7 separate regions of the Homo sapiens genome follow, and regions 2, 3, 4, 5, 6 and 7 are each linked to region 1. Evidence: fine-mapped expression QTL. A gene starts in region 1. Each other region holds a variant in brackets. All regions are shown on one strand. Distances are from middle to middle.

Region 1 (4,068 bases):
GGGATTCGGATGTGGGACCAGGGCTTACTGCCACCTAGCTAAGGTATTTAACCAGCTTTATCTAAGAGTTGCCAGGGATGTGAGGCAAAGCATCACCTCAGGGGATTCCTACAGCAAAGAAGTTTAAGAAACACTGTATTGAGGCTTGTATAAAACCTTCCCAAACTGAGGGCATTTCTACAACTCAGAAAAGTCTGCTGTTACATTTCAACTAAACTAAGTCACATAATTGCAGCATTTTACATCCAAAATTTGCTTATAAGACAGCTACCGCCAATTGCAACTTCCATCAAATGACATTCTCTCCCTGTGTTTAATACACAAACTCTTGGTCTATTTCTCTCAATGTTCTAGTGAGAAAGATGTTTATCATCAACCCCACTTTTTTGGGGAGAAAACTAGGAATCACACCTATAAGAGCCCTCTGACTCCCAACTCCTTTGCCCCTTTCATTACACAGTCCAAATCAAGAAATCATTAGTCTAATCCCTTGCAGGGCTTGTTAAAACCGATAGATGGGCTCCACCCCAAGAATGTCTGATTCAGTAGTCTCTGACAGGGCTTGAAATTTCAGCCATTTTGAATAAGTTACCAGGTGTTGCTGCTGGTGGGACCAGAGTTTGAGAACCACTGGTTTATGCTGCCTTCTTCCCATCCGCTGGTCCTTATTTTGCACAAAATGGAGCGGACTAGTCAACGTCAGCTACAGGATAACTGACTTTTCTTCAGCAGCGTCACTGGGACTGATTTTCCCTTAAGACTGCACTTTCCAGGGACGTGACAAACAAGCAAGCAAGTAGAAAGAAGATCTGGGCCAATCTTTGGTCATCTCTACCCAGGGACAATGAGCTACTCAGGGAACAGACCCTTGAGGATCCCAAGCAGACAAACCCCACAGCTGAGAGACAGATCTTGAAACATCCTCCGCTCCTTAGGCGTGGTCACCTCTGGCCTCAATGGAAGTTACAGATAGGTACCCAGGCGCCAGCTGAGGCACTGAACTCCGTGGCGCAGGTATCCTAACCTCAGGCCCCTGGCATCTCTCCCCAGGATTCCAAGCACTGAACGCACATCAGCCTGCTGGGCTCTCTCGATTTCTTTCCCTCACTGGGCCGTGTGTTCAGACGCACCTGGGAGCCCCTTCCCCACTTCCTGGAAACTCAGCGACTCCAGCCACAACCTCCAAAACGCCAAACGCTCCGCCCCAAGGAATCCTACCTCACCTTCTCATAACCTGCCCATTCATTCTCCTTCATAATCCTCCAAATCCTCATTTTCCACCCCCAAATGTCCGTTTTCAATTGATATCTCTTTGTTCTCCTCGCAATCACCAACTCCCATCTCCAACCAGCACTCAGGACTCACTTGGAGACACCCCTTCCTCACGCACACACGTATCTACTCCGCAAGCCCAAATGTGCTTCCCGGATTCCTAACCGCCAGGGAGCCTCCCTACCACCACCCCCGCCCCTAATTCTCCACCCAAAGCCCTTCCCCCACCCCGGGCCTTTCCCCTAACCAATCCCCCAAATGCCTCTCCACTATCGTGACTGCCCCTCATCACACCCCCTCCTCTCGGTCCCTTCTTATACTCTGCTGCTGCCCAGCTCCCTCGGCCGCCCTCAACCCCTAGTCCATGGGCACCGCCCTCCCTACCATGAAAAGTCGGAGGACGCAGGAGTCTCCAAACCCGGACTGAGAGAGGCAGGAAACACCCAGCTCACGCCAGCCGGGGGCGGAGGCGGGGCCGGAGCGATAACTTCCGCTGTCCGCACCCCACTTCCGCCCCGCAGAGGGCAACGTCTTAAGCCGTCCGTTGTGCGCCTAGGGGCCAGTTTTCTTTCCAGCCTCCCCGGCCGGAGTGGGTTCCAGCTTTTCTCGGCTGGGGAGGGCATTTATCCCACCTCCGCTATTTCAGCTGCCAGAGGGGAGGCAAGGTGTGGGGAAGTTTTCCTTCCCGGGCGAAGAAGCTCTGCGGAACTGTCATTTTCCGGAACTGGATGCTTGCTTCCTGGCGGGGTTCTGAAAGCGAACACCGCGGGGCAAGATGGCGGTAGTGCGTCGGCTGCTGCCCCGGGTCTGGCAGAACTCGGGTGTTTTGGGCTGAGACAGTGGCAGCTGCGGCCCCGACCCCAAGTGCGGGGACCTCCGGCGAATAAAGGTCGGCCTGCGGGTAGGCCGGTAGGGCCTGCGGTCCGGCCTGCGGGAGAACTGGGTCGTCAGTCCTCCGAGTGGTGGGGCTGGGGACTTTGAGGGAGTTGGCTCTAGGGCACAGTCCCTGCCTGGCCAGGTCGGAGGAACAAGTGCTGGGATCTGGCGTGTGTGCTCCAGGGGCTCTTTCCGCGGCCCTTTCCACCTCTTTTCACTTTGGGGACGGTAGGCCTTTATAAACGGACTAATGCTGGGTGATTTGTTCCTGTGGTTGTTGATGCCGAGGAAAGACTCTGGGCCCCAGGACTCACCTAAACTGGAGTTCGAATACTGTTCGCTCGCTGTGTGACCTTGGGTGAGTTCCCTCACCTCTCTGAGCCTCAGTTTCCTTCTGTGTAAATGGAGTAATTAGCAGGTTTCACAGAGGGTGTGAATACGTTTTAGTACCGTGCCTGACACCTAGTTCTGAATAAAGAAAAACTTGATCGTAATTTAACTCCAGCTTAGCCCCCACAGGCAATCTTGCACTCTCAACTTCTCTTTGCTTGGCCATTCTGTGAACGGGGGAGCCCTGGATCTTGTTTGTTTTACTTAGTGATAAATAACTGTTTTGGATATACATGGATTCAGATTCAAAAGCATCCACCTTAGATAGGCTGTAGCTTTCAATAAATAGTAGCTGTTAATATGAATAGTCTCTTTAAGTCGTGTTTCCTATTCTTTAAATAAAAATTAGATTATTGAGGCTGGCCACGGTGGCTCACGCCTGTAATCCTAGCACTTTGGGAGGCCGAGGCGGGCGGATCACCTGAGGTCAGAAGTTCAAGACCAGCGTGGCCAACATGGTGAAACCGCATCTCTACTAAAAATACAAAAATTAGCCGGGCGTGGTGGCGGGCGCCTTTAATCCCAGCGACTTGGGAGGCTGAAGCAGGAGAATCACTTGAACCTGGGAGGCGGAGGTTGCAGTGAGCAGAGTTCGCGCCGCTGCACTCCAGCCTGGGCAACAAAGTGAGACTCCGTCTCAAAAAAACAAAGATTATCGAGAACTGATAGAGCTGTTGAAAAGACAAGTTGGTTAAATAATCTGTGCAGTGTCTGATACACCGTCTGCCCAGAACAAGTGGTGGTGGTCATTAAACCTGGTGGCCCAGCTTTTCCTACTGCACAGGGACAATCCTCTTGGCTTAGTCAGCAGTTGGTATTTATGATGCTTCAGCTTTGGAAATATAGAGGTAAGACAAGAGTCTGAATCCTGCCTCTTAGTTATTACAGCCTTGACTCTGCCACATACTAATGGTCTAGACTGGAGTAGATGAGATCATGAATGATCTTCTCATAGGACTCCTCTCCTTATTAGATGAGATCACTTATAAAGGACTTGACACATAATGGGCACTCATTTACTTTTTTAAATGATCTTGGTTATCACCAACCTCTTATTTTCTAATCTTTCTACCTATATGATTCTTGTTTCCCTAACTAGATTGCAAGCTTCTTAAGGACAATACAATAAAGCTCACTTACATGCTACATGCTTTTAGATATCCTATATTAATATTTTCCCATTTAATCCTAATCACAATGTTGTGATGACTAAATTGAGGTACAAGAAGGATAAATGTTGCATTTAATCCTTTCAGCAACCCTAGGACATAGACACTATTATTACCCTCGATTTACACATAAGGAAACTGAGGCCTAGAGAGGATAAGTAACTTGGCCAAATGTCGGATAGAAGGAGTACTAAAAAGAACCAAGGCCCGCTTTCTCTGATGCAAGACTTTTTCTGCTGCGCACAGCCTTTTCTTTGGTTCTCCATGGCATTTAGCAAAATAAGTACTTAATAAACACTTGATTGTGTGTTTTATTAATTGACGAACTATAGTATACACTGTGCAGGTGGAGAAGGTATAT
Region 2 (4,057 bases), 27 kb before region 1:
AATCAGATGGCTTATTTGAAACAAACAAACAAAAAAAACCCTTGATTACGACACACCAAAGCTGTTCCAATTTGTAAAAAACTGTAGTTATTACATTGCAATGAAATCTCTTTACCAAATCTTGGGCCAGTGTTTTACCTGGATAGTGCTTACATTATAAATATTGGTTTTTGCCCTTAGTGCTAACATAAGAAAAATCAGTTCCTTGTATACTCAATAACAGAGCTTGGACCAGCCAATGCTGTCTATTCACTCATGGCTATAATGCAGCCGACAGAATTGTTCACCATGGAATGTTTTATAAACCTGTTCATATTCCAGAGAGACAAAGACTCAAAACTACAAGTGCAAAGTTGGGTAGAGAGAGCTGCCAGAAACACTAGCTCATTAGGCATAGAGGCCACAGCAAATCAAATTGTTCCACAAACTCATTCTTCACACAAACATTTAAAACACTATGCAGCCAGGTGTGGTGACTCACACCTGTAATCCCAGCACTTTGGGAGGCCAAGGTGGTCGGATCACAGGGTCAGGAGTTCAAGACCAGCCTGGCCAACATGGTGAAACCCCATCTCTACTAAAAATACAAAATTAGCTGGGCATGGGCTGATGGGTACCTGCAATCCCAGCTACTCGGGAGGCTGAGGCAGCAGAATCGCTTGAACCCAGGAGGCACAAGTTGTGGTAAGTGGAGATGGTGCCACTACACTCCAGCCTGGCCAATAGAGCAAGACTCCGCCTCAAAAAAAAATTTATACAATGGCTTTTCCATTTTCCTGGCCAACATTCACTTCGACTTTCTAAAAAAGCTCAACCCAAAAGAAAGACAGGGTTGGTGTTTAACACTTAAACAGTATAAAATATTTACGAAACATTTTGTAAGCCCTCTTTCCTTAGCACTTAATAAAATCCAAATGGCCTAATATAAAAGTTTCTCACACGACAGTTTAAAAAGCATCTGCCCAATACACGATTTTGACATTCAGTCATGATTGTTTTAAAGTTTTATTGTAGACTTTGCTGTTGGATACAAAATGAAGGCATACAACTGTCACAGGCAGGGCAGTAAGTACAAAGTCTAAGCTGTAAAAACCGTTTGAAAATATAAACTCGTTTTTGGAATACATGTGTCAAAGGCTGCCCATGTTAATACCTTTGGTATAAAACGGTAACGATTCCCTTGACAAACCCATCCATCACCTGACGCACATTCACATCTCCTGGTAACTACTCTACCTAGTCTAGTCTCAACCACCCCTGTCAGTCACGACTCACTCCTGTTCCTTTGCAGGTGCAGAGGAGCCTGGGAGGTAGGTCACTGAGAACACCCGTCCTACATAGGCGCTGCGCCCAGCCGGGCTCCAGCAGGGGCCGCCACCTGTGCCCCACAAGCACACGTCCCCACCCACAGTCACACATATCCCTTAAACAAACATGAACACAGACACAAACCAGACCCAAAGTTATCTATCTACCCGCACATCCTCAACCTGTTCACTGCTGGCCACTCTACACTGTGTAAAAATCAGAGGCAAAGACAAGGGGGTCTGTGTTTATAGCAGGGAAGCTCCCTGGGGCTGGTGGTGTGAGGGTGTCCCTGCCTGGATGCCAGGCTGGGAGGACAAAGGGTATGGGCCACACTGAATTTCTAAGCAAAATGACTTAGAAAGTTAGCCCAGCTTCATGGGGAAGGAGGCTGAAGAGGAGCGGGATCCCAGGGAGGGGTAGTTTATGAGCTATGCCTGTCACAGGGTCAGATGGCCTTCCTGGAGTGGAGTCGGGTCAATCAGGAGAACAACTGGACGGGGCTGGAGTTGGGGAAAGAACCAGAAACAGAGCTGGACACTTACTGCCATGGAAAGTTCTGCTCCTACGCAGACATATGGGGTCCCAGTGAGCACCAGGCCAAAGACCAGCCCAAGGTGGCAAAAGGCTTGATCCCTAAACAAAGCCTTGCACCCAAAGTTGCACTGGTCTCAACGATTTAGACGCTCATTCAGCCATATTTCCACTGCCACAAGCTGCAATTATCAACAAGCTCTAGGCCCAAAGCCACATGGCAGAAAGCACGTCTAGCAAAGCAGTGGGGATTGTGCCCGGGCCAAACACACAGGAACCAGGAGTGGACCTGCTGGGGCTGGAGGATTATGAAATAGGAAGCAGGGAGCTCAGATACCTCTGGTGGCCTCCAACTGCAGGACAACTCTCAGAATTGTCAAACTGAACCCTTAAGGGAGTGTCACCCAAAAAGCCCACATAGGAAGTCGACACCCACAAAAATAAATATTGCAAACAAAAGTTCTCACATACACTTCACACTCATT[C/T]ATACTTTTCCTCTGAGAACCGAGAAAGCCTGGCTCCAAAGAGTCTCAGATTCTCATGAAAAGTAGAGATCTTAGACACAGCTTGTTCAACGACAGGGGTCATACGCCTGGGTCAAGACAATCAATTTGCCTTGTCAAGCAATACCAAAATAATCATCTGGCTTGTTACAAAAGTATCTCCAGGCTCCAAGGGAAGCAGAAGGGGCCCGGCAGCCTGCACAGGATCTGGGTGTAGCACGGCAGGGAGTGGGGGCGGTGAGAGGAGGGCGGCTCGGTCTCTTGCCTGCTCACTGGTGGAGGTGGGCCCGGTCATCAGGGCGCTTGATGTGGATCCTCCGCACGCGCTCGATCCGCTCCCGCTCCTCGTCCTCGTCCAGGTGGTGGGAGCGCCCCGCCGCCCCGCCTGTGGCCTCCAGGAGCGCATTGTCAGGTCCCCGGCCATCCTGGGCCTCATACAGCAAAATGTTCAGGGTCTCCTCATAAATCCGGGCTTCGGGAAACTCCACCTGTGTTCCCACAGTATACAGGGCAGGTAAGTTATGGCCCACCCCCTCTGCCAACACCTGGACTTTAAGCAGGGCCGCCAGGCTAAATCAGGCCCCTGGGATTCTGCTGAAGGCCACCAGTATTATTTTTAAATAAACTGATATTTTCAATGGCAACACTTACATGTGGTGCTAAATGCACAGAAAATCAAGGGGATGCAGAGAAACAGGTCTCCCTGCCCCTAGTTTCCCTTCTTAAAGGTACAGTTTCTCATCATTTTACCCTCTCAAAGATTCTGTGCATGTAAATATGTGTAATACACATATTTATTCACACACTTCAAAAAACACACAAGGTGGCCCACCACACAGAGTTGTACATGTCTTCCTCTTGTGCCTAACTTAACCTAGAGATCATTCTGTATCAAGGAATTATAAATACGACAATGCAATTAACCATACTTGGATGGCCATTTAGGTCAGTGCTAATATGCTTCTCCTAACAGAGCTGCAACCTTGCACAGAAGTCCTTCCACACCTTAAAGCAGTCTCTAAAGCAGTTTTTTGTACAGGGTCCAGCTGGGGACTCCCACGAAATGGGCATGAGCCCTTCTGCTGTTTGGCAAATCATTGTGTTTGCTCATTGCCCTTCAGGGTTAAGGTGTGATGAACAGGAAGAGGGCCACATAAGCAGGTCCCACACATTTGATCAGACTAGACTCCACTTTCAGGGTGGAATTCGGAGGTTCTGGGAAAAATGGAGCAGGCACACTCTACCCCGTCTTCCTCACTGACACTACAAAGCCAGAATGGGATGCACACAGCAGCTAACTGTGGACTCAGAAGTAAATCATGGCAGGCAGATGGGGGAAACAACAGAATTTGGAGTAATGCCCAACAGTGAGTTTACTGTTTGCTGCTGCCAGCACTGATGCAGCCTGAAACCCTGAAATGGCACCAGGACAGAAGACCTCCAGAAGGTCTCTAGTGGCCAGGGAGGCCAACAGAGTCTAACAGGCAGAGAGGCTGGGAGGAAATCCTGGTTTTCTTTCCTTTTTTTTTAAAAGATATGGGATCTGGCTAATTAAGCTTTAAAATTTTAAGACTTCTCATTTTTAGAGCTTAATAAGGAGCAAGGGGATTTAGAGACCACATGGTCTGATCCCAACTGTTTCTTGATTCACAGACCAGGTTCAGGAGTGGCGTGTTCTTGTGTTTGTGAAGCTGGTTAGGGGCAGAGCCAGGACG
Region 3 (4,068 bases), 21 kb before region 1:
TGGTGACTCTCCTCTTACTACCCAAGGGCAGAGGCAGCCCAGGTATATTTTTAAAAAATCAAACCATGACAGAATGGGGGTCTAATTACAGGAAGAATTCACAGCCCTGAAAAAAAAAAAACAGTTCACAGGAGAAAAGGGGCATGATGTCTTGCCAATGTGGAGAGAGAGGCAGATGATTCTGGTTCACCCCCTGCCCCCGGGATCTTTGAAAGCAAAAAGAACCTCAGTGTTTAGCACTTCTTGGCTACCTTAAGAACAATATCTATTCTTTTAGGATAGATTTTGAATGCTTAGGAATAAAATATGTTGTCAAATTCATCCTGTGAGTGCTGGGGAGGAGGAGTAGATACAGACTGAGTGAGAGTGCCCAAGCTGATGGCCCTTGACGTGGCGTGATGGCACAGGGGAAATCACCACACTATAATTCTGTGTATGGCTTCAATTTTCAATAATAAGTTAAAAAAAAAAAAGACTCTGGTTTCTACTTTGTGATGTGATGATTTCTTCTCATTTGCTTTTTGTTCGAGGTCAGCTACAGAATCATGCAGAACTGTGGCCCCAAAAGCTGCAGGGACAATAGTAACCTGGGTAAGTGACCTACAGGCTCAGGCTCTTAAGACTCCTGTGCAAGGGTGACAAGAGGCATGACCGTCGGCCCACAGCAGACCTGCTGCATGTCACTGGATAGCCAGAATTCCCTTAGACACGTTAAAGAAATGACAGAGTGTATAATGTGAATTAAAAGTTTAAAAAGACAGAAAACCCAATTGCAGAGCCCCAAAAGGGCAGGCAAATTCAATTAAGGGGGGGCCAGATCTCTAGCAGCACTATGCAGAGCAATCCAGCTTTGTGGAACGGCATGGTGGGAGAAGTCAAAGGATAGGTCAAGCCTACTGGTTTGGAGAGGATGATATAAAAACACATCCCCAGAGTCCAGCCCAGTCAGGGAGTCAAGCATGCTTGGAAGGAAGCCAGCAAGGTAGGGAGCTAAAGGAATGCCAGATGAACCCTACATTTGGCTCCTTGCAGGGCCTAAAAGATAAATATTTTAAGGATGAGCAATCACAAGGCAAGCAAAGCATTTTAAAAGCATTTCCCTCTGTATTGGGCTCAAGTGAAAGGAAGTTCTATAGGTGTGTGTTTCAGAACAGCCACTCCAAACTGTCCTCTCGAGGCTCTTACCTTGGTCTGTTTCTTCTCAGTGGCATAGACGATGGAGGTACAACAGACTTCAGCAATCTTCCGGCCCTGACCATAAAAGGACCAGCAGCAGATTTCATCCCCAATAACATCCTTTATGAACAGGACCCTTCCGTTAAAGCGCAGAGACAGCTTATCAAACAGTTCAATGTTTTTCAACATATTGTCGTCAGAATTGCTGCAAAAGAGCATTTGATACGGTGACCACAAGCTGGTAAAAACTGCCATCATTTGCTGGGCCCTTCTACACGCAGGGCCCTACTGAGCCCACTTTCTCCACTACCTCATTTCAACCTCACAATAATCCCATGACAAAGGCACTCCAATCTCCATCACTCAAGAAGGAAAGTGAGGATCAGAGAAATTAGGTAATTGCTCAAGGCTGAACCTAATAAATGGCAGACACGCCCCCCAAAAGACAGCCCTGGCCCCTAAGCCTGAGTGCTCCTAACCATTGTGCTTGAGTGACAGCCTCTGGGCACAGGCACCAGGTGGAGGAGAGCACCTCACCGAGCCCCAAGAGGAGCAGAATGGCACTGCCCAAGGGAGACTCTATATCCTAGGTCTTTTTAAAGATCTTGAGTAACCTGATTAAATCCTCCCTGCATCCCTCAAGTTCCTGAGTTAGAGCCACATGTTTTCAAGGGCCAAATGGCATTCTAGAAACCTGCATATATTGCTGGTGGGAATGTAAAATGGTGCAGCCACTTTAGAAAACAGTTTGGCAGGTCCTCGAATGATTAAACATAGAATTACCACATGACCCAGCAATTCTGTTCCCAGAGAAATGAAAACGTAAGTCCACATAGAGACTTTGCATGAATGTTCATAACAGCATTACACACAATAGCCAAAAAGTGC[A/G]AACAACCCAAATGTCCATCAACTGATGAATGGGTAAAGAAAATGTGGTCTACACTGTGGAATATTATTCTGCCATAAAAAGGAATGAAGTATTGATTCATGCTACAACATGGATAAACCTTGAAAACCTCTTAGGTAATCTCATTATGCTGAATGAAGGAATCTGGTCACAAAAGGCCATATATTATGCAATTCCATTCACATAAAAATGTCCAGAACAGGCAAATTCATCAAGACAGAAAACAGATTAGTGGTTACCTAGGGCTGTGGGGTTGGGGAAGCAATGGTTGAGGGAAAATGGGGAGTGACTGCTAACGAATAGAGGGTTTCTTTTCAGGCAGTGAAAAAGTTCTAAAATTAGATAGTCGTTATGGCCTCACAACTTGTGAATATATAAAAACCACATATTGTGAATATAATAATAACTGTACACTCTAGAAAGATGACTTTTATGATATGTGTGAATTATAGCTCAGAGTTATACCCCTGTATCCATCTGTCTACTTATCTATCCAGGCAGAGAGGTACAGAGGGGTCATCCTCATCTGAAGGTACGAAGAAGAGCTGGGCCTGGCTGGTGTGAGTGGAGGTTTTCCTAGTAAATGGAGCTGTCTTTCCCGGCTGACGCCTTACCTGGTATATGAGTATTTGTTGTTACTTCTGTTGTAGAGCAACTTCACGGCTGGCTGTGGGTTGTTTTAAAAGAAGAAGAAGAGAGTTACTTGGCAGGCAGATGCAATGAACTACTAGCTTCCCATAGGGCTGGGGCCCTGCCCTGCATCAGAAGAGGCAGACAAGCATAGCTTGCTGGCTGGAGAGGGGGACCACATGACCCAATAGCAGGGGCACAAAAGATGACCTGTAGCTTCCCACTGTGAACCCATTATCAGGCCTCACTCAGGCAATTATACATGTTTTTATTTCAAAAGTTATTCAGAAGAACCTCCATCATTTCTGGTAGCAAAAGAAATTCCACAAGGGTGCCTCCAACATACCTTATTTGAAGTCGCTATAAGTTTTTGTTCTTCCTTGGATGAGGTGATCACAGGGACCTTGCAGAAAGGCTCATAAGTATCTTTGTTCTGCTGGAACAAAACATGCTTTCAGCCTAGGAGGCCTGCCTAGCACTGCATTTTTAAAGTTGACCGGCTGGACAGGCTCTGGCGAGGGGAGATGGGGCAGTCATGGCTGGGAAGAGAGAAGGATTCTCACCACCAGTGAACTAGATGGGGGAAGACAGGGAGTTGAATTTCCCAGTAAGTCTGCTCTTTGGCTATGACCATGATAGGCCAGGATGCTGAGTAAGTACTAACAATGATGACACATTTTCCACAGCCCAGGAAGCCACTCAAAAATAAACCCTTGACGTGGCAGCAGAAACGTGTTTTAATCAAAAGCTCCTAAAACCCCACTACCATGACTGCAGAGGAATTAAAAAAAAAAGCATAAACCCATAAGGGGAAAAAGAATGGGAGAAGTGAGGTCAGCAGACCAGTAAAAAAAGTCAAAAATTTGAGGGTAGAAAGGTCACAGGTGAGCGTTAACCAAGGAGAGGGGGAAAGCTGAAACCAGTGGGCGGAAGCACTGGAAAGATCCCCAAATCCATCTCCGTCCCCATGCAGGCAGAAGAAAGGGCCATCTTCCTGCAGTGGTTTGCACGGTAGAGGACAGGGCTGAGCTGCGATTCTGAAAACGGGGGGACAAGTGAACATCACACTAAGTGATGAGCAACCCCAGCTCCTTCCCCTTCCAGATCCCCAAAGGCAGCCGGCCAGGCCTAGACCCGTCAGGCAGGAGGAGAGTAGAGGATTCCTCTTCAGGAACACCACCTGCTTCCCCCAAAATGGCTTACAGATTCTGACAGTTGGGGGTCCCGCTGAAAAAGTCTGCCTTATCACCCACAATGCAGCCCAGTGGACAACAAGGACCTTCCATGCACAAACAGCTTTCAGAGTCTCTCATTCCTTCAACAGACAGCCAAGCATCATCAGATTACATGTGAAA
Region 4 (4,068 bases), 88 kb after region 1:
TTTCACAGTCAAAGCGGGAGTGATAATACTACCCACTTGGTTGGCCACGTGCAGCGTGTACCCCAAGGGCTGGGGAGAAATGGCACCAGTTTGGGAATCAGATTCCAGCTCTACTGATGCCTGGCTGTGGGGGCTGGGCAAGTCAGCCTTTCTGAGGCTCAGTTTGGCTCCCTATAAGCTGTGGACATTAACTTCCACCTCACGGGTGTCTGTGAGGGTGAAATGGGTGATATGAGGAAAGCAGTGGCATTGCTGCCCGGCCTCATCCACAGGCCCTGCGAGCGGCTACCAGGCCAGGCGGGGCTCCCAGGTGAACCAGACACTGTCCCCGCCCTCACAGTGCCAAGGCTGGGTGGGAGGTGGATGGGTGAACAGGTTAACACCCCTTGTGATGCCTGTGGTTAGAGGATGTGGAAATCCAGGAGCAGTGCCTAACCCAGCTGGAGATTAGGTGGCCAGGGAAGGCCCTTGAGGAGGTGACGTGACAGCTGCGACCCAACGCGTACAGCAGACAGAAATGACCGCTGCTACCGCGGCTCCTCAGGAGGTTGAAAGCCTTCCTCCACCACACAGAATGTTCTGGCAGCTGAGGCTTCCTCCTGCAGCCACAGCCTGTGGCAGCCCCACCTACTACCCTCCGTCTGTTCCCAGGGGCCTGAGCAGGCTCCAGCCTGGGCTTCAGAACGGAAGTGGGAAGGGCTGACCCTGCGGGGAGCGGTTTCTGGGGACCTGGGTCCATGTGGAGGTGGAAAGTGCGGCACCCTGGGCATTCTGGGGTGGTGACCCTGTCTCCGTGCTTGAAGTTCTCTGCGTGGGTCAGAGGCCCCCTCCTTCTTAGGGAACAGAACAGTGACACTGTGACGCATGAGTCCCACGGGCTGAGGGCTCACTGCAGCTAGGCTTCCCAGGTTCCCTCTGCATCGGGCATGAGCGAGGCACTTCACACCGGCTTTCTCAGCCTCGGTGCTATTGCCATTCAAGGCCGGGTCATTCTTCGTTGACGGGGGCTGTCCCCTGCATTGCAGGATATTTACATGCCAGCAACACCCCCAACACCCAGATGTGGCAACCAAAAATGTCTCCAGATATTGCTCAGCGGGCCCTGAGGGGCAGAATGGCCCTGGGTTGAGAACCGTTGCATTTTAAATTCCCTCATTTAGTACAATCCTCCCCACTCGCCTGTGAAGGAAGATTATATGTCTCCAGTTGTTTGTTTTGGAGACAGAGGTTTTTTTTTTTTTTTTTTTTTAAAGACAGGATCCCACTCTGTTGCCCAGGCTACAGTGCAGTGGTGTAATCACATCTCACTGCAGCCTCAACCTGTAAGACTCAAGCGATTCTCCCACCTCAGCCTTGTAAGTTGCTGGGACTATGGGTGCATGCCACCATACTTGGCTAATTTTTAATTTTTTTTTTTTTTTGTAGAGACAGGGTCTCCCTAAGTTGCCCAGGCTGGTCTTGAACTCCTGGCTTGAAGTGATGCTCCCACCTTGGCCGCCCAAAGTGCTGGGATTACAGGCTTAATTGAACCATGGTGCTCGGCCTGAGACAGGGTCTCAATCTCTTGCCCAGGCAGGAGTGCAGTGGCATGATCACAGCTCACTGCAGCCTTGACCTCCTGGGCTCAAGAGATCCTCCTACCTCAGTTTCCTGAGTAGCTAAGGCTACAGGCATTCACCACTATGCCTGGCTAATTTTCAAATATTTTGTAGAGTCAGGGTCTTATTATGTTACCTAGGCTCCTGGCCTCAAGTGATCTTCCTGCCTCAGTCTCCCAAGTAGCTGAGATTGCAGGTGTGAGCCACCATACCTGGCCTGTC[C/T]GCATTTTACAGATGAAGAAATGGAGCTCACAGAGGGAGAGTAACTAGCCCCAGGTGACACAAAGAGTAACTGGTGGCTGGATGCTGAGTCCCGTGATGGCCACCGGGGCTGAAGATTCCCAGCTTGGGTGAGATGGTGTTACTCACTTTCTGAAGCTCTTCGGCAAATGTATGGCCCTTTTCTGTGACTAATTCCAGAGCAAACCTATGAAGAAAAAGGAAAAAGAATTTGCCTGTAATGTAATGTCCCTAGGCCCTGTCTTGCCATAAACAATAGATTCTCAGGTGGCAGGCCATTTAGTTAATTTAGCTATAATAGCCATGTTATTTTTCTTGCTAACAATAAGAACATTATAGCCTTCCATTTGGGGGCGGTGGTATTTGTTTCTTGAAATGCCTTTTCGGATGCTCATTATTTCCAGTCAAGAATTCCTTTTGAACAGCTACTCTGGCCAGGCCCAGGAGAGTCAGTGGTGAACAGAAGCTGACCCAGGCTCTCTCCAGCAAGTTGGTGACAGGGTGAGCAGTGACAGTCTCAAGTGCTGGATCCTGAGCTCTGACCCGCAGCCCTGTGGTGATAGGTGAGTGGGAACCAGACAGACCCAGGTGCAAATTCTGCACCGCTGCTGAGTGTCTCTGGGACTTCAGGCAAAGCTTACACCTTCATGTTCAGGAGCGTGATATTCAGGAGTGTGATAGGTAATCAGATTAGACATACTCCTGAATGTGAAGGTGCAAACTGAGATCAGTGCTCTGAAGGAAAGAGCAATAGAAGCCTAATCTGACCTTGGCTAGAGAGGCAGGGAGGGCTTCCTGGAGGAGGTGATGCTGGAGGGGAGACTTTGAAGGCTGGGGAGGACTTCCCTCATAAGGCAGAGAAAGCAAACTGCCCCCCGACACAGGTCAGGACCCTGGCTCTGCCTCCCTCAGAACCCTGCACTTCCCTCCTGCACCAGTCAGTGCCCCAGCAGGAGACAGTGGCGCGCTGCAGGGATTCCTGGAGGAGGGCTTTGGGAAGGGACAATTCACAGAGGTATGGGCAGAGTTTCAGGGAAATGCAGGAGCCTGAAGGGCAAGGGTCGGGGAAGGTACAACTCACCCTGGAGGGAGCTGAATTCTGGAGTCACTCAGCAGGGAGGGAGTTAGGTAGGGAGCCCAGCTGCCACCAGAGCCATGCACCACTGGGGAACAGGGTCACACACACTCATGAGCTCTCTGCACTCACTCTCCTATCACCTACTGGTGCCTCCCACTGGCTGGACCCACCTGAATGCCAGAAGACCAACGAATCGAGGTGGCACAGCCACCAGGTGATAAGGTCAGCCTCCCATGCATAAAGAGAAGGTGAAGAGAAGGGATTTGAAAGGGCCAATGGAGAATATCCAGCCCATCTTCCTGGCACATCTTACAGTTAGAACTAAACACACCAGTATGTGATTCCCGTCTGGTGTGTCTTCCCCTCTGGACCAAAGGGAGGGCTGTGCAGGCTGGGACACAGTCTGTCTCCATCATAGCGGATGCCCCATGCCTGCCTCACAGGAGGTGTGCAGAAGTACCTGCTTGCCGAGGGATGCCCCGTGACCAGGCCAGTGGCAGGCCCCACCCTGGGCACTTGCCCCAAGCCTGCTCCCACCCTCGTAGCTGCCCAGTGAGTGCTGCCTGCTCCCTGCACTCTGCAGCTCAGGAAGGTGGGGCTGAGGTTCTGCTCCCTGCACTCTGCAGCTCAGGAAGGCGGGGCTGAGGTTCTCTGTTGAGCAGCGCCTCGCACTGCAGATGCTTGGTCAATATCTGACCAAGGAAGAATCCACAACTGAGGTTTCTCCAACCTCCCGCTCCTCCTCAACTGAGAGACGATGGCTCGTGTTTTAGAGCTCATTAGAATAGCTGATGCGAGAACTGGCCTTTTCTCCCTTTGCCCACTTGGTCTTGTGTCTGCCCTCTTCTGGACCCCCTCCCACACACACCAAGGGGTTTGTTTGCCTTCTCTACCCGGCTGGCTGACTATCTGTACCTCCCATTATCTGTCCCGAAAATCTCACCTAGTCAGGCCCGCCATGGAGAAATGGTAGCCAGGAACAGGTAAGTGTTAAGAATAGTAATAATGAGGAGACTCGCTTGAACCCGGGAGGCAGAGGTTGCAGTGAGCCGAGATCACACCATTGCACTCCAGTCTGGGCAACAAGCGCGAAACTCCGTCTCGGAAAAAAAAAAAAAAGAAGAGTGATAATAGCTAACATTATTTTTACTT
Region 5 (4,068 bases), 43 kb after region 1:
TCTGGCCCTACTTTTTAAAGCATATCCCTCAGGGATGGCAAAAGAGATGTCTGTCTTAGGCTTTAGGCAAAGTCCCTTTTCCTCTTTACTTTCCACTGGAGAAGGGGAGAGGGTTGTTCATTGTTATCCCAGTTGTCGTAATCTGGTGGCTTGGTTATTAGAATATGAGAGCCCAGGGGCCTTTGCTGGATTTGGACACAAGGGGGCGTCAGTAAGCTGATCTCAGACTCATGCTCTCCTGGGCATTGTTTCCTTTTTTATGGTTAGTATTGAGGGCTATGCTTCTCTATTAGGCTTCCAGATATTAAAGTCCTGTAGGAAGGCTCTTCTTCCCAGAGGGTGAGTTTGGGCTGGAACTCTAGTATTCAGAACCGGAAGGATCCTCAAACATACTCTTACCCAGTCCTTTCCCCTGTCTCTGTCAAAGGCAGAACTGAGGCCAGAGAACTTCAGTCAAGGTCACTTGGATATCAGTGATAGAGCTGGGCCTGGAAGCCAGGCATCCCTTTTCTAGCTCAGTATTCCCTGTGTGTGCATGTTGAGATGCAGTGAAGAAGAGGAACGCTGACTCACATTCACCTCCCAAGAGGCATGGATATAATCCTCGCATATCCACGCCAGTTCCCAGAAGGCAGGAAATGTATCACAAGAGGCAGTCCCCTCTAAACGTTTAAACAAAGAGGCTGGTGTGGAGCTGATCAAGCAAGACTGAGATTTGAATCCAGTAAACGCTCCTTGAGCTAGGCCATGTGCCACTTGCTTTCACATGTACCATCCCATTTCATCCACATAACCACAAACGCATCTACTAATGCGTGTGAAGGCTGGGGAGGCATAATTTTAAAGCAGGTTGGAGGAACTCCTGCAGGCAGACAGGAACTTGATGGAATTCTCCATCCGTTCTCATCTCAGTGCCAAGATAATTATCTTAAATTTAGGCAGAATGGTTTAAATGCTGTTACAGCTGCCTGTTGACTTCCTGTTTCTCCCTTTTGTCATCTAACTTAATGATTCTCAAACTTTATGTACATAAAAAGTCCTTCTCAGGTTTGCCTCCACAAAACTGTGCTCCTGTTCCCACATGTGACTTAGGGGTCTTGAGAGGTAATTTTCCCTTGCCCACTAACTTTGAAGCCTAACCCCTGAATCGGGGCACCATAGGATAGTCCTTTGGGGATCACTGGGTGAACATGGCAGGAAGGCAGCAAGGGTTCCCCAAAACAGGTCTCGCCACACTGGCATACTGCTCGTTTGCTTTGTGATGAGGGGACCAGACGGCAGCCGAGTGGATGCTGTGGAGACAGCCTGTCTAACCTGCGAAGCATGTGACAGTGTTACAGTTGTAGCTGAAAGGGAGAAATGTGGCATGGCCTTCATAGGACAGCAGGGTTGATTGGTCACTTGTTCCATCACAGTGTCTGAAGACATCAGTTTCACCTGGTGATTGGGCCTCTCAAGTCGGGCCAACAGACTCTTCCCTGGGCCCTGTGCTGTTCAGCACTGTTTTTATAGTCACTGCTCTGAAATAAAAACCTCAGCACCCCAAGTACTAGGAATGCATTAGATGATGGAACCAGAAGCCAGGAAGGCCTCAACAGATTAGAATCAAGAGACAAACTAAACAGATGATTTAGTAGGAGAACTCCAAAGTTGTGGTTCTGGGGCTGTGCATGTTGAGGTCTGGATGGAGTAGATGTGCTGAATGGCTGTGTCCTAACAGAGCTGACCACCAGCCAGAAGTCCAGGCCCAGCACCACCCCCACATCTCGGTCTCTGCTCCCTGCGTTGATCCCTGCCATCCACCTGCTCTGCTGCCAATAGAAAGATCTGACAGAAAGTCAGCCCTGTTACTCTTTGCCTAAAACCTTCTGCAGCTCCCATTACCTTCAGGATGTCCCCTAAATTCCTCAGCATGACTTGCAGGCACTTCATGATTGGGAAGGCAGCGGGAGATGAGGGGTGATGGGTAATTCTTTTCATTTTACAGTGTTCTGTAGGTTTG[AT/A]TTTTTTTTTTTTTCTTTTTTCTTTTTTTTACCATGAGCTAAAGATACTCTTAGCATTGAGAGAGAGAGAAATGTATCTTGTCCCGGTTTCTTTCATCCTTTGTCTGATGGCCAGGAGCTTGTCATGACTCATTTTGTCTAACTTCCCCATCTCACTGCTCTGTCCCCTTGAGGTCAGTCTCCCCTTGCCAAGGAGTGATACTGTCACATCCCCAAATGAATCTTTGCTTTTAATCAGCACTCATTCAAAAGCAGGTGAGAACGGCTCCTGTCATGCATCCACGTTTCATAATTTGCACATTTGGTAATGATGCTGGGAGAGCTTCGCACAGAGGAGAGGGAACCCCGAATTGTGTGCATAAGGCTTTGGGCTTCCTAATGGGCTGTAATTCTGCTCTTGGCAGGACGGCTACGAGCAGCTTAGGCAGCTCTCCCAGCACGCCATGAAGGGGGTCATCCGTGTGAAGTTTGTCAATGACCTCGGGGTGGACGAAGCAGGGATTGATCAAGACGGTGTTTTTAAGGAGTTCTTGGAAGAGATCATCAAGAGAGTTTTTGACCCAGCACTCAATCTGTTCAAGGTATTTAAGGGGAGCAACAGCAGGGCTGACAGCAGCCAGATTCAAGAAGTGAAGAGCTGGGCTTGCTCCTTGCAAGGCACTTGACCTCTGCCTCTCCCCGTCTTTTTGCCTTGCAGACAACCAGTGGGGATGAGAGGCTGTACCCCTCACCCACATCCTACATCCATGAGAATTACCTGCAGCTCTTCGAGTTTGTGGGGAAGATGCTGGGGAAGGCTGTGTATGAGGTAGGAACGTTAAGAAACAGAGAAATGTAAAATAAAATGTTAACGGTACCATGGGCTTCTTCACATACACATATGTGATCAGGCTTGGCCATGTAAACTGTCACTAGGATACAAGCGAGGACAGGGGCAGGAACCAAGGTTTGTTGTACACCAGTGCTAGGTACTTTGCCTGTGGCATCTCATCTCATCCCATCGACAGCCCTGTGACGGGGCTGCCACTGTCCTGGCTATTTAAGGATGGGAGACCTGAAGCTTTGAGGAGTCACCTGTCCAGAGTTTCGTTGCTAGTTAAGTGGTAGAGGTGGAATTTGAACCCAGGCCGGCCCAAGTCCTAAGGCCAGCCCTCTTCTTTCCTGAGGCATGAGGAGTGGTGTGCAGAGCCAGATGGCCACACGGAGGCTGGGTCCCCGTTGTAGGAGGGCAGCATTTTGTGGAGTTTGATAGTTTTAAAATCTTGTGTTGTTTGAGTGAGTGCTTCCCAGCCATGGCAACAGGACAGGACCAGCTGTTCCTAGTCAGCCGTGTGACCATGTGCCTTCAAGTTTCTTTAGTTTTTAAGCCGTGTTCTCGCATCAGTAAAGTGGAGATAAGAAAAGCCACATTCCTGGGTTGCCGTTAATGGTAAGTGAGGAGGGCCTTCTACGGTGCCCAGCCAGCTGCTCACACCAGGTGGATCGGAGCAGTCATCCTCACCTTACTAAGAGGAAGTGAGTCTGGGTTTCCACTCTGTGGCCTGATGGGGTCAGGGTGATGTGGCCCACACAGCTCCTGTCCATTGAAACCCCGTCCATTGAAAGCCAAGGTGGGACCACCTTCAGTGGGAAGTCACCGCCTGTTCCTTGGGAGAGTCCTGTTTCCCAGGAGGAAGGAAAGCTGCAGCACAAGCCCAGCCAGTCTGTGTGGCCTTCGCAGTGGGCTCCAGAGCTGCAGGGACCCTGCCTGGGTCTCAGGCTCTGCTGAGCTTCTGGCCCAAGCACGGAGGAAGCGAGCCACCTGGGCAGCACTCCTCGCATACCCCAGGAACCTGGAGAAGCCAGATGCTTTCCAAACAGAAAGAGCCAGCAGCTGGGCCAAGCTGAGAGGGAGGTCTCAGGGCCAAACTCCTTTCACTCTCGAATAATCCATTGTTCTCTCTGTCTGGAAACAGTCTATGTGCACCGGCCTCAGTCCCTGGCCATGATGGAATCAGGTGGCCCATCTGAGCCCCTGCCCAAACACCATCCAGTCTTCCTTGTGCCCTCCAGTGATTTGGGTCCT
Region 6 (4,068 bases), 130 kb after region 1:
TAGTCTCCAGCTGGAGGTGGGGCCTCTTTTGCCGATGCCCTAGTTGGCATGGAAGCCCTTTATAACGGTGTTCTAATTAGGGCTCCCATAACAAAGTACCATAAATGTGGTGGCTTAAAACAACAGAGATTTACTCTGTCATGGTTCAGGAGGCCAGAAGTCTAGAATGAAGGTGTCGACAGGACCAGGGACCCTCTGAGACACTGGGTCCTCTGAGAACCCTCCCTTGCCTCTTCCTAGCTTCTGGTGGTGGCTGGCAGTCCTGGGCTTGCGGTTGCATCACTCCAGCCTTGGCTGTTGCTGACACATGGCCTTCTCCCTGTGTGTCTGGCTTCACATGGCATTCCCTCTTATAAGGACAGCAGCCCACCCTCATGACCTCATCTTAACTTGATTACATCTGCAAAGACCTCATTTTCAAATAAAGTCACATTCATGGGGATCCGGGGTTAGGACTTCAAAATCTCTTTGTGGGGGACACGATTCCACTCCCAATAACCCCTAAGGGGCTGGGCATGGTGGCTCATGTGGGTAATCCTAGCACTTTGGGAGGCTGAGGTGGGAGGATTGCTTGAGCTCATGAGTTTGAGACCAGCCTAGGCAATAGGGTGAAACCCCATCTATACAAAAAATACAAAAATTAGCCAGGCACTGTGGTAAGCGCTTATAGTTCCAGCTACTTGGGAGGCCAAGATGGGAGGATGGCAGGATGGCTTGAGCTCAAGAGTTCGAGACCAGCCTGAGCAACATGTCGAAACCCCATCTCTACAATAAAATACAAAAATTAGCTGGGTGTCGTGATGAATGCTTGTAGTCCCAGCTATTCGAGAGGCTGAGGTGGGAGGATGGCTTGAGCCCAGGAGGTAGAGGTTACAGCGAGCCGAGATTGCACCACTGCACTCCAGCCTGAATGACAGAGCCAGACCTTGTCTTAAAAAAACAAAACAAACCCTAAGGGCAGGGGTTTTGCTGGTTGTTTCTGCCTCTGTGGTCTCCAGCCAGAGCCTGGCATATGTCTGTGCCAGAGGGGAGTTGTGGATAGAGTCAGAGTGTCCAGTCTCTCCCCGTGGGTGACCGCAGCCCCTGCTGCCAACAGCAGCAGCCACAGCCCGCTTGGCATCTGGGCAAGGCAGGTCTCCCGGGAAGCCCCCTCCCACGGGCTGTTCTCCGAAAGAAGTGGTGTTGATGTCGGCAGGTGCCTGTCACTTCCCTTCCCCAGCAAAGTCTCAAACTGTCAGAATAAGTGAAATAGTCATTGCCTATCTCTGCGTTTGAGATTTTATTGGCAGTTTCATTGTCACCCAAAACAACCTCCTTTTCTCCGTTGGCGTTTTCATCAGATGGGTCTGTGGGCAGGAGGAGGAGGCAGGGCTGGCTCCTAAAAACAGGCCTGGGCAGGTCATGGTGCTGGCTCCACTGGGCTGGAGTCAGCAGGGGCAAAAGACCCCGTGGTGGGCTCTGCCATGCCTTGGCTCCTGCAGAAAGCTGCTGGGCACTCTCTCCAGGGAGCAAAAAGGAAGTGAGAGACGGAAGGTAAAAACACCCTGAGAGCCCCTGGAGATGGTCACAATGGCCAGATGGGGCAGCCCAGACTGCACAGTGGGTCCTCAGGCCCTTCCCCAGTCCTCCCTGGTGGGAATTAGGGGGGCATTATGGTGGTGGGGTAGGAGCATGGGCTGTGGCATCAGACCCACCTGGCGGCAGGCACCTCAGAGCAAGCACTTCTCCCTGCAGAGCCTCAATGTGCCTGTCTGTCAAATGGGGTGGTAACAGG[A/T]ACCTTCCATCAGCTGAGGGCTTGATCTGGGCCACACACCCAATTATCCTGTTCAGTCCTCCCCAGAACCGAGAGAGGTGGGTGTGCTCAAGCTCTTCATTTTCTTGATATGGAAACTGAGGCAGCCCGACCAAGGTTACCACAGCAGGCAAATTGCAGGGGTTGGGTTTGAATCCAGGCTGTGAGACTCCAAGCCTGGTTGTGAATCCACTTTGGAGGGTTAGTGGAAGGAGTGTAGGTGATATTATTTTTTTTTTTTTTTGAGACAGGGTCTCACTCTGTTGCCCAGGCCGGAGTTCAGTGGTGCGATCACGGCTCACTGCAGCCTCTACCTCCCAGGCTCAATTGATTCTCCTACCTCAGCCTCCCAAGCAGCTGGGACTACAGGTGTACACCACCACACTCAGCTAAGTTTTAATTTTTCCTAGAGGCGGGATCTCTCTGTTGCTCAGGCTGGCCTCGGACTTCTGGGCTCAAGTGGTCCTCCCACCTTGGCCTCCTGAAGTGCCAGGATTACAGGTGTGAGCCATTGTGCCCGCTGGTAATAAAGTGTCAACAGAGTACTAGGCACATGGGACAAAAAGCCATCTGTTATTGTTGTCTGGGCATGGGGTAGAATCTGGGCCCCTTGGCAGTCACTCTCTGTCCTGGGACTTTCTGGACATCACTGGGTAGTTTCACCCACAGGGTGGCCTAAGGAACCTCCAAGGGAATGGGGTGAGCTCAGGAGTTCCACTGAGACTGGGGGTCCCTGTGTGGGGCTCAATCCTGCTTCATGCTGTGATCCTGCTGGTGTACTCTGTCCCTGGCCCCCAGCAGGGCTGGGTGCCACTCTACCACATCCAAGCATCACAGAAGGGAATCTGAGGCCCAGAGAGCTGTCCCTTGCTCAGGGCTCCTGAGCCAGGGAGGTGGATACAGTGGTTAGAACCACAGATTGTGGAGTCAGTGAACTCCATGTTTGAGTTCTGGTGTGGCCACCTGCTGGTTGGTTAACAAGTTGCTGAGTCTCAGAGTCTCAGTTGCATCCTCTGCACATTGGGATAATAAAGGATTCCTCTGGAGACTGGGTGCTGTGGCTCTCACCTGTAACCCAGCTACTCAGCAGGGAGGTTGGCTTGAGCGGGGGAGTTCGAACCTGTAGCCCCGGTGCTACTCAGCAGGGAGGCTTGCTTGAGCCCGGGTGTTTGAGGCTGCAGTGAGCTATGATCACACCACTGCACTCCAGCCTGGGTTACAGAGTGAGACAGTCTCTAAAAAAAATCACATCCCCCTGCTAAGGCCGAGGGGACAAATGATGCTACACAGAAGACATTAGCACACAGAGAAAAGAAGACAGAGTTTTGGCATCTACAGGCTCCTTGAAGATCTCAGACTCCAGCCCATTCTTGGTGCAGAGGAGGAAACTGAGGCCCAGAGATTAGGGAGGGTTTCCACTTAGCCACCCCGCAGAACAGGGGCTTGTTCCTTGGCCCTGTAACTCCCGATCCAGAATGTCAGCCACCTCCCCAGCTGGCGTCGTCCCGGGAGTCCCCTCCGCCCCTCACCTGCCCTTCTCCCCGTGTCTCTGCCTTCGAGAGCCCAAGCTGCGGGCCCGCAGTGAGGAATGCCATTCTCCCTCTCCCCGGCACACTGAAGGTTTTGAAAGTTAAAGTATTACCGTCGGCTTTGTTGTTGCCTAACTACGACAGACAAATTGAGAACCAGTTGTCAAAATGTCAGTGCACAACAAATCAACATGCAGAACGAGTCTCAGCGCTCTGCGGTGTATAATTAAACAAAAAATCCCTTTTAGAAATTTCAGCGAGCGTTGGTTCCACTTTATATTTGTCTGTGTGATTAATAAAGGCAGCTAATTTTCAGACTTTAAAAACAGCTAGAAAATAGCTCCTAATTACATATTAGGTTCCTCGCGGCCCCCGCTGCGCTCCGCCGGCATTGGTGGGCCGAAGAATTTGGCAGAGTCTTAATTGCATTCTGAGCATCATCTAATTTTAGTTAAATGTAATGTAATCAGCAGCAGATGTCTGAAATAAAATATGAATTATGAATATGATGAAATTTCATTCTTGAATAAAAAAGTAATTTGCTATTTAGTTCATTAAAGTCATAGAGGTTTATTAGGAGCAGGTATATATGGCCCGATGAGGGTATATATTAAGTGATACTGGGAGACAGAAACCCCAAAGGGATGGGAAACTTCATCCAGGAGAGTTCAGTTATGATTAATGACTGTGGGGGCTGGAGAGGCTCCTGGGGACCCTGAGTTTACCCAGCCGGAGAATTCCCTCGGG
Region 7 (4,043 bases), 110 kb after region 1:
GAAAGTCATGCATGGCTGTGCCCGTAGACTCTCAGCTGCTCATTCATTCATTCCTGTATTTGCTTAGTAAACAAGAATCCATTACTTCCTGTGTTCCCGATGATGCTGCACTGGGGCGTAGGAATGGAGAGATGAAGCTTGGGTACAGTTTCCAAGGACTCTCAGTCTGCTTGTGGGGGTGGGGCCAGACACACACAAAAGCCGCCACAGGACAATGTGAGAGTCACCATGATGGAGGCACACAGGGCAGAGGCAGGATGGAAGCGGGAGGGAGGCTTGGGAGGGGCTTGGAGCAGAAGTGACATTTGGAGACTCTCAGCCTGTTTTATGTTTCTGTGTCCCTCCCGCTGGAATCATTGGAATCACAAACGTGCATGTGCGATTTCAGCATTCTCTGTTCTGTTTGCGATTTCAGCATCCTCTGTTCTGTTTGCACCCACGGCAGAATTGTTGGGTGCCTGGAATGAAACGCATGGCAGAGGGGAGCCAGGTGCCTTTTTGACTGTTCCCTAAGCCCTTGATCAAGTTGTGGGGTGGTGTTTGTCCCAGGGCACTTTGCCACCTCCATGGGCCTTTTCGCATCAGTAAGGGTCCTGGGGCTCTCTCCTCTTTACTCAGGGCGGTCTTCATGGATGAGTGGCAGGTCCTGGCCTGCAGCCCCCACCAGCTGGGCCACTCCATTAGTGGCTCAGTAACCTGGCCTGCCACAGCGCCACACCTGGGCCCCCGGCTAGTTCTCTGGGATCTTTCTGTCCCAGCTCAGTCATGCCTCCCTTTCCAAGGCTGTACGTCAGAGTTGTCAGCATTGGCACTATTGAGATTTGGGGCTGGGTTATTCTTTGTGGTGGGGCTGCCCTGTGCATTGTAGCCATCCCCAGCCCCTACCCACTAGATGCCAGTAGCACCCTCAGCGTGGCAATCAAAAACATCTCCAGACATTGCTTAGTGTCCCTTGGGAGGCAGAATCACCCTTGCCGCCGACCTTTGCACTCCGCAGAAGCCAGTAGGAGCGTGGAACAGCTTCCTCGGGTTGCTCCAGCAGTCGTCAGGAGAGCCTCGGGTGCCGAGGTGAAGCTGGTCTGCCACCGCCCCGGATCCATGTGGAACCAGAGCTGGATCATGTGGGGGAGTCTCAAATGCCCGGGCCCCGGCCTGTCTTCAGGAGCCCACGGTCTGATGGGGAAGGCGGTCACTGGAATCGTCAGAGAGAAGACACCTGAAGGGTTGTGAAGCTGCTGTGGGTGACAGTGACAGGCGTCTTAGATCTGGCTGCGAGCCTGGGGAATCATTCATGGAAGTGGTGGCATTTCATTCCTTCAGTGTCTCCTGAGAGCCACTTGTGGCCTAAGCACTGGACTAGGCCCTGGAGCTAGAAAACTGATGAAGACGTGGGCTGGGCACCGAGTGTACGGTCTACTGGGGGCATCAGGAGATGAATGAGGAGGTTTCCAAGGGGGGCGGGCAGGGGAACGGCCAGGGGAATGGCCAGGCGTTGCTGGTGTGCTGGGCGGAGGCGCTGGGTCCACAGGCCTAGGTTTGAGTCCAGCTCTCCCACTTGCCAGCTGGTGCCCTCAGGTGAGTCACTTCTCCCAGACCTCCAGCTCCTTGTTTACTTAGGGGGATCTTGAACATACAATCAGAAGCGGTGGCTCTGAAGTGCTTACCTGTTTGCTGGCCGAGTTCATTCATCCTTTCCACAAGTATCATTAAGCACCTACTGCGTGCTGAGTACTGGGGCCTCCGCAGGGAACAAAACAAAGCCCCGCCTCCGTGGAACTCATACTTTGTTGGGAGAGGAGAAAAAATCAGTTGTCTGTGAGAGCATATCAGGCAGTCTTAAGCACCTTTAGGAAACAAGGCAGGGTCAGAGGCTACAAAGAGAAGGAGGGGTCCGATTGGATGGGGGTTCGGGGGCTGCTGGTGAAGGAACATTGAGCAGAAACCTGAATAAGTCACGCCGCTATGGGGCGGGGCTGGTCCCTGGCAGAGGAAG[C/T]GCGGTGCAAAGGTCCTGAGACGAGCACGCTGCCTGCCGTGTGACACAGTAGCTGGGAGGTCAGAGTGGCTGAGTGGAGTGAGCAGCCTGGGGAGCGAGGAGAGAAGAAGAGGCTGGGGCAGTGGCCAAGCCCGGATCACAGGAGCGCTTACCAGGCTTACCCCCTGCGTGGTGGCCGCTGGATGGGTATGAGCCCTGGATCTGGTGGGGCTGGTGACAGGCCTGTCTGCAGAGGACTTGTCTAAGAAAGATGAAGATGCAACACCCAAACTCCTCCCGCCTGGCTAGATGGGAGCATGGAGCAAACCAACCTTTGCTGCCTGCTGTGGGGTGCCACGGGAGCAGATGGCGGCTTCACAGAGAAGCTGGGGGCCAGACTCCACGTTAATCCCATGGATGGCTTAAGGAGCTTCCCCCCACCAACCATGCGTGGTGCCTCTCTGTAAAGAAAAAATGCATTGTTTGTGAAGTGGATCAAGATGCGGCCTCCCAGAACGCTGCCCTTTTGAGGAATGGCTTGTCTTAGAAGGGAAGAGAAAAGCCAAATAGAATGTTCATCTTTTGTAAAGTTAAAAAAAAAAAAAAGCCAGCCTCCAAGGCTGAGAATCGATATTAATTTCATGGGCTTATGGGCAGTGAGATAAAGCAGGTTTCTGGCAGCCCTTTCCAGCCCTATTGGATTTTACAATCTTGAACTGTGAAGACAGCGAATAAAGGTATCAAGGGCTCTGCCCGTCTCCAGCTGTCTCGGGCCAGAGCTCATCCAAATCCCCCACCTTCCATCCCAGCCTGCAGCCCTCTGAAAGGCAGGTTGGATGGCAAGAAATGTCAGCTTGAGCCCTCGAAGACGGCTCACTACAAGGACAGTTGGGATTGTGGCTTTAGGAGGGATTTATGCAGCTCCTCTGGGGCAGGTGAGGACCACGGGGTCATGCTAGAGAGTCAGCTCAACGTGGCTGCCTGGGACACGTCTATGTGCCAGAGGGCAGCCAAGGGGATGACTGACTCTACATCTGGTTTTAGACCAGGGCTGCTCGTCCGGGCACCATTGAGGTAGGGCAAGAATGGGCTCAGCGTGCTGGGGACCATCCTCCTCTGCAACCCTGCCCTCCCTGCATTTACGAGCCCGTGCGTGGCACTGCCCGCACCAGCTAGCCTGGGCATCTTCCCTCTGTGTGATCCATTTCAGGGCCTGTTGCTTGGTCTTTCTAAAACTCCAGCTTCGTGGGGGTGACCCACACAAGTGAACCTTCGCCCCCTCCTTGTACTCTGCTATAGCCACTTTGAATTTCTCACTGGATGACTGTGCCGGGTTCCGCCACCTCCAGGCTCACACAGGCTGCTCCAACTGCCAGAAATCCTCACCCTTCTAGCTTTGCTTGGTGGCTTCTTACCCTTCCTCAGTTCTCAGTGTCCACGTCATGCCAGAAAAACCTTCTCGGCCCTTCTCCCCTATCCCCTCTCTGGCCCCGGCCCCAAGGCCACGCTGTGCCTAGCATGTTGTAGGTCCCAGTTGAAGTTGAATGAATAAATGAGTGAAAAGCCAAGGGAGAATGGCCACCCAACCAGTGCCTGGGATGGAGGCGCAGCTGTGGCCAGCAGCAGAAGCCCCATGCTCCCCCAATCCAGTGTCACCTCTTGTGCCTCCCTTCTTCCTCCGTATCAGGGTGGGCGGCTTCCCGGACTGCTCCCAGTCCTGTCCCAGCTCCTCCATCTTGAGTTCAGTGTGGACCTGCCTCCTCTTCACCCTGCAGGTCGCCAGCTCTCCAGATCCTGCTGACCAACACCAAAGTCCCTCGCAATACCAGGGCCCTTGTGGCTGGCGTCAGAAACAGGCTGCTCAAGGTGACTCTTGTTCCCTTCTTGGGCAGGTTTCAGGAAGGCCAGGACACAATTACATCTGGATTTTCGAGGTCTCCCTCTGGCTGATGGGTTATAGGGGGTGTGGTGGGTGGTGGGGGCCCTTAGGGAGGTGGTTTTGGCAGAAAAGAAGGTACCGTCCGTGCCCGTAGCCTGGCCAGGAAAATGACAGTGGTCGGGCTCGTTAGAC

Direction of the effects. Alleles are on the strand shown, and positions count from the first base shown. SD is a standard deviation of normalised expression in the study named. Not every link is listed here.
As copies of AT replace A in region 5, the expression in subcutaneous fat of the gene that starts at base 1,697 in region 1 goes up (moderate effect, 0.46 SD a copy in TwinsUK).

Evidence for each region. PIP is the estimated chance that this variant, and not a neighbour inherited with it, causes the effect.
Region 2: its variant is fine-mapped to the expression of KCTD10 in whole blood (TOPMed, PIP above 0.99). The same link has a PIP of 0.9 or more in blood mononuclear cells.
Region 3: its variant is fine-mapped to the expression of KCTD10 in whole blood (INTERVAL, PIP 0.94).
Region 4: its variant is fine-mapped to the expression of KCTD10 in lung (TOPMed, PIP above 0.99).
Region 5: its variant is fine-mapped to the expression of KCTD10 in subcutaneous fat (TwinsUK, PIP 0.95).
Region 6: its variant is fine-mapped to the expression of KCTD10 in NK cells (Gilchrist 2021, PIP 0.95).
Region 7: its variant is fine-mapped to the expression of KCTD10 in whole blood (INTERVAL, PIP above 0.99).

Annotation. Positions count from the first base shown.
Region 1 is chr12:109,475,604-109,479,671 of GRCh38, forward strand. KCTD10 (potassium channel tetramerization domain containing 10) reads right to left here and starts at 1,697. Exons shown (of 7, transcript NM_031954.5): 1 at 1,657-1,697. The coding sequence starts at 1,659. UBE3B (ubiquitin protein ligase E3B) reads left to right here and starts at 2,031. Exons shown (of 28, transcript NM_130466.4): 1 at 2,031-2,506. RefSeq lists enhancers at 610-1,345, 1,854-1,943.
Region 2 is chr12:109,448,984-109,453,040 of GRCh38, forward strand. It overlaps KCTD10 (potassium channel tetramerization domain containing 10), which reads right to left. Exons shown (of 7, transcript NM_031954.5): 7 at 1-2,830. The coding sequence ends at 2,612. Among named protein-coding and RNA genes, the nearest start is that of KCTD10, 26 kb to the right of the region's middle. The variant C/T (reference allele first, on the strand shown) is at 2,325.
Region 3 is chr12:109,454,933-109,459,000 of GRCh38, forward strand. It overlaps KCTD10 (potassium channel tetramerization domain containing 10), which reads right to left. Exons shown (of 7, transcript NM_031954.5): 4 at 3,060-3,146; 5 at 2,698-2,750; 6 at 1,186-1,381. Among named protein-coding and RNA genes, the nearest start is that of KCTD10, 20 kb to the right of the region's middle. RefSeq lists an enhancer at 3,594-4,068. The variant A/G (reference allele first, on the strand shown) is at 2,065.
Region 4 is chr12:109,563,152-109,567,219 of GRCh38, forward strand. MMAB (metabolism of cobalamin associated B) reads right to left here. Exons shown (of 9, transcript NM_052845.4): 4 at 1,968-2,025. Among named protein-coding and RNA genes, the nearest start is that of MMAB, 8.3 kb to the right of the region's middle. RefSeq lists an enhancer at 182-682. The variant C/T (reference allele first, on the strand shown) is at 1,821.
Region 5 is chr12:109,518,741-109,522,808 of GRCh38, forward strand. UBE3B (ubiquitin protein ligase E3B) reads left to right here. Exons shown (of 28, transcript NM_130466.4): 20 at 2,408-2,584; 21 at 2,701-2,811. Among named protein-coding and RNA genes, the nearest start is that of UBE3B, 43 kb to the left of the region's middle. The variant AT/A (reference allele first, on the strand shown) is at 2,003.
Region 6 is chr12:109,610,422-109,614,489 of GRCh38, forward strand. No RefSeq gene overlaps it. Among named protein-coding and RNA genes, the nearest start is that of MVK, 39 kb to the left of the region's middle. RefSeq lists an enhancer at 804-1,304. The variant A/T (reference allele first, on the strand shown) is at 1,775.
Region 7 is chr12:109,587,024-109,591,066 of GRCh38, forward strand. MVK (mevalonate kinase) reads left to right here. Exons shown (of 11, transcript NM_000431.4): 8 at 3,748-3,838. Among named protein-coding and RNA genes, the nearest start is that of MVK, 15 kb to the left of the region's middle. The variant C/T (reference allele first, on the strand shown) is at 1,994.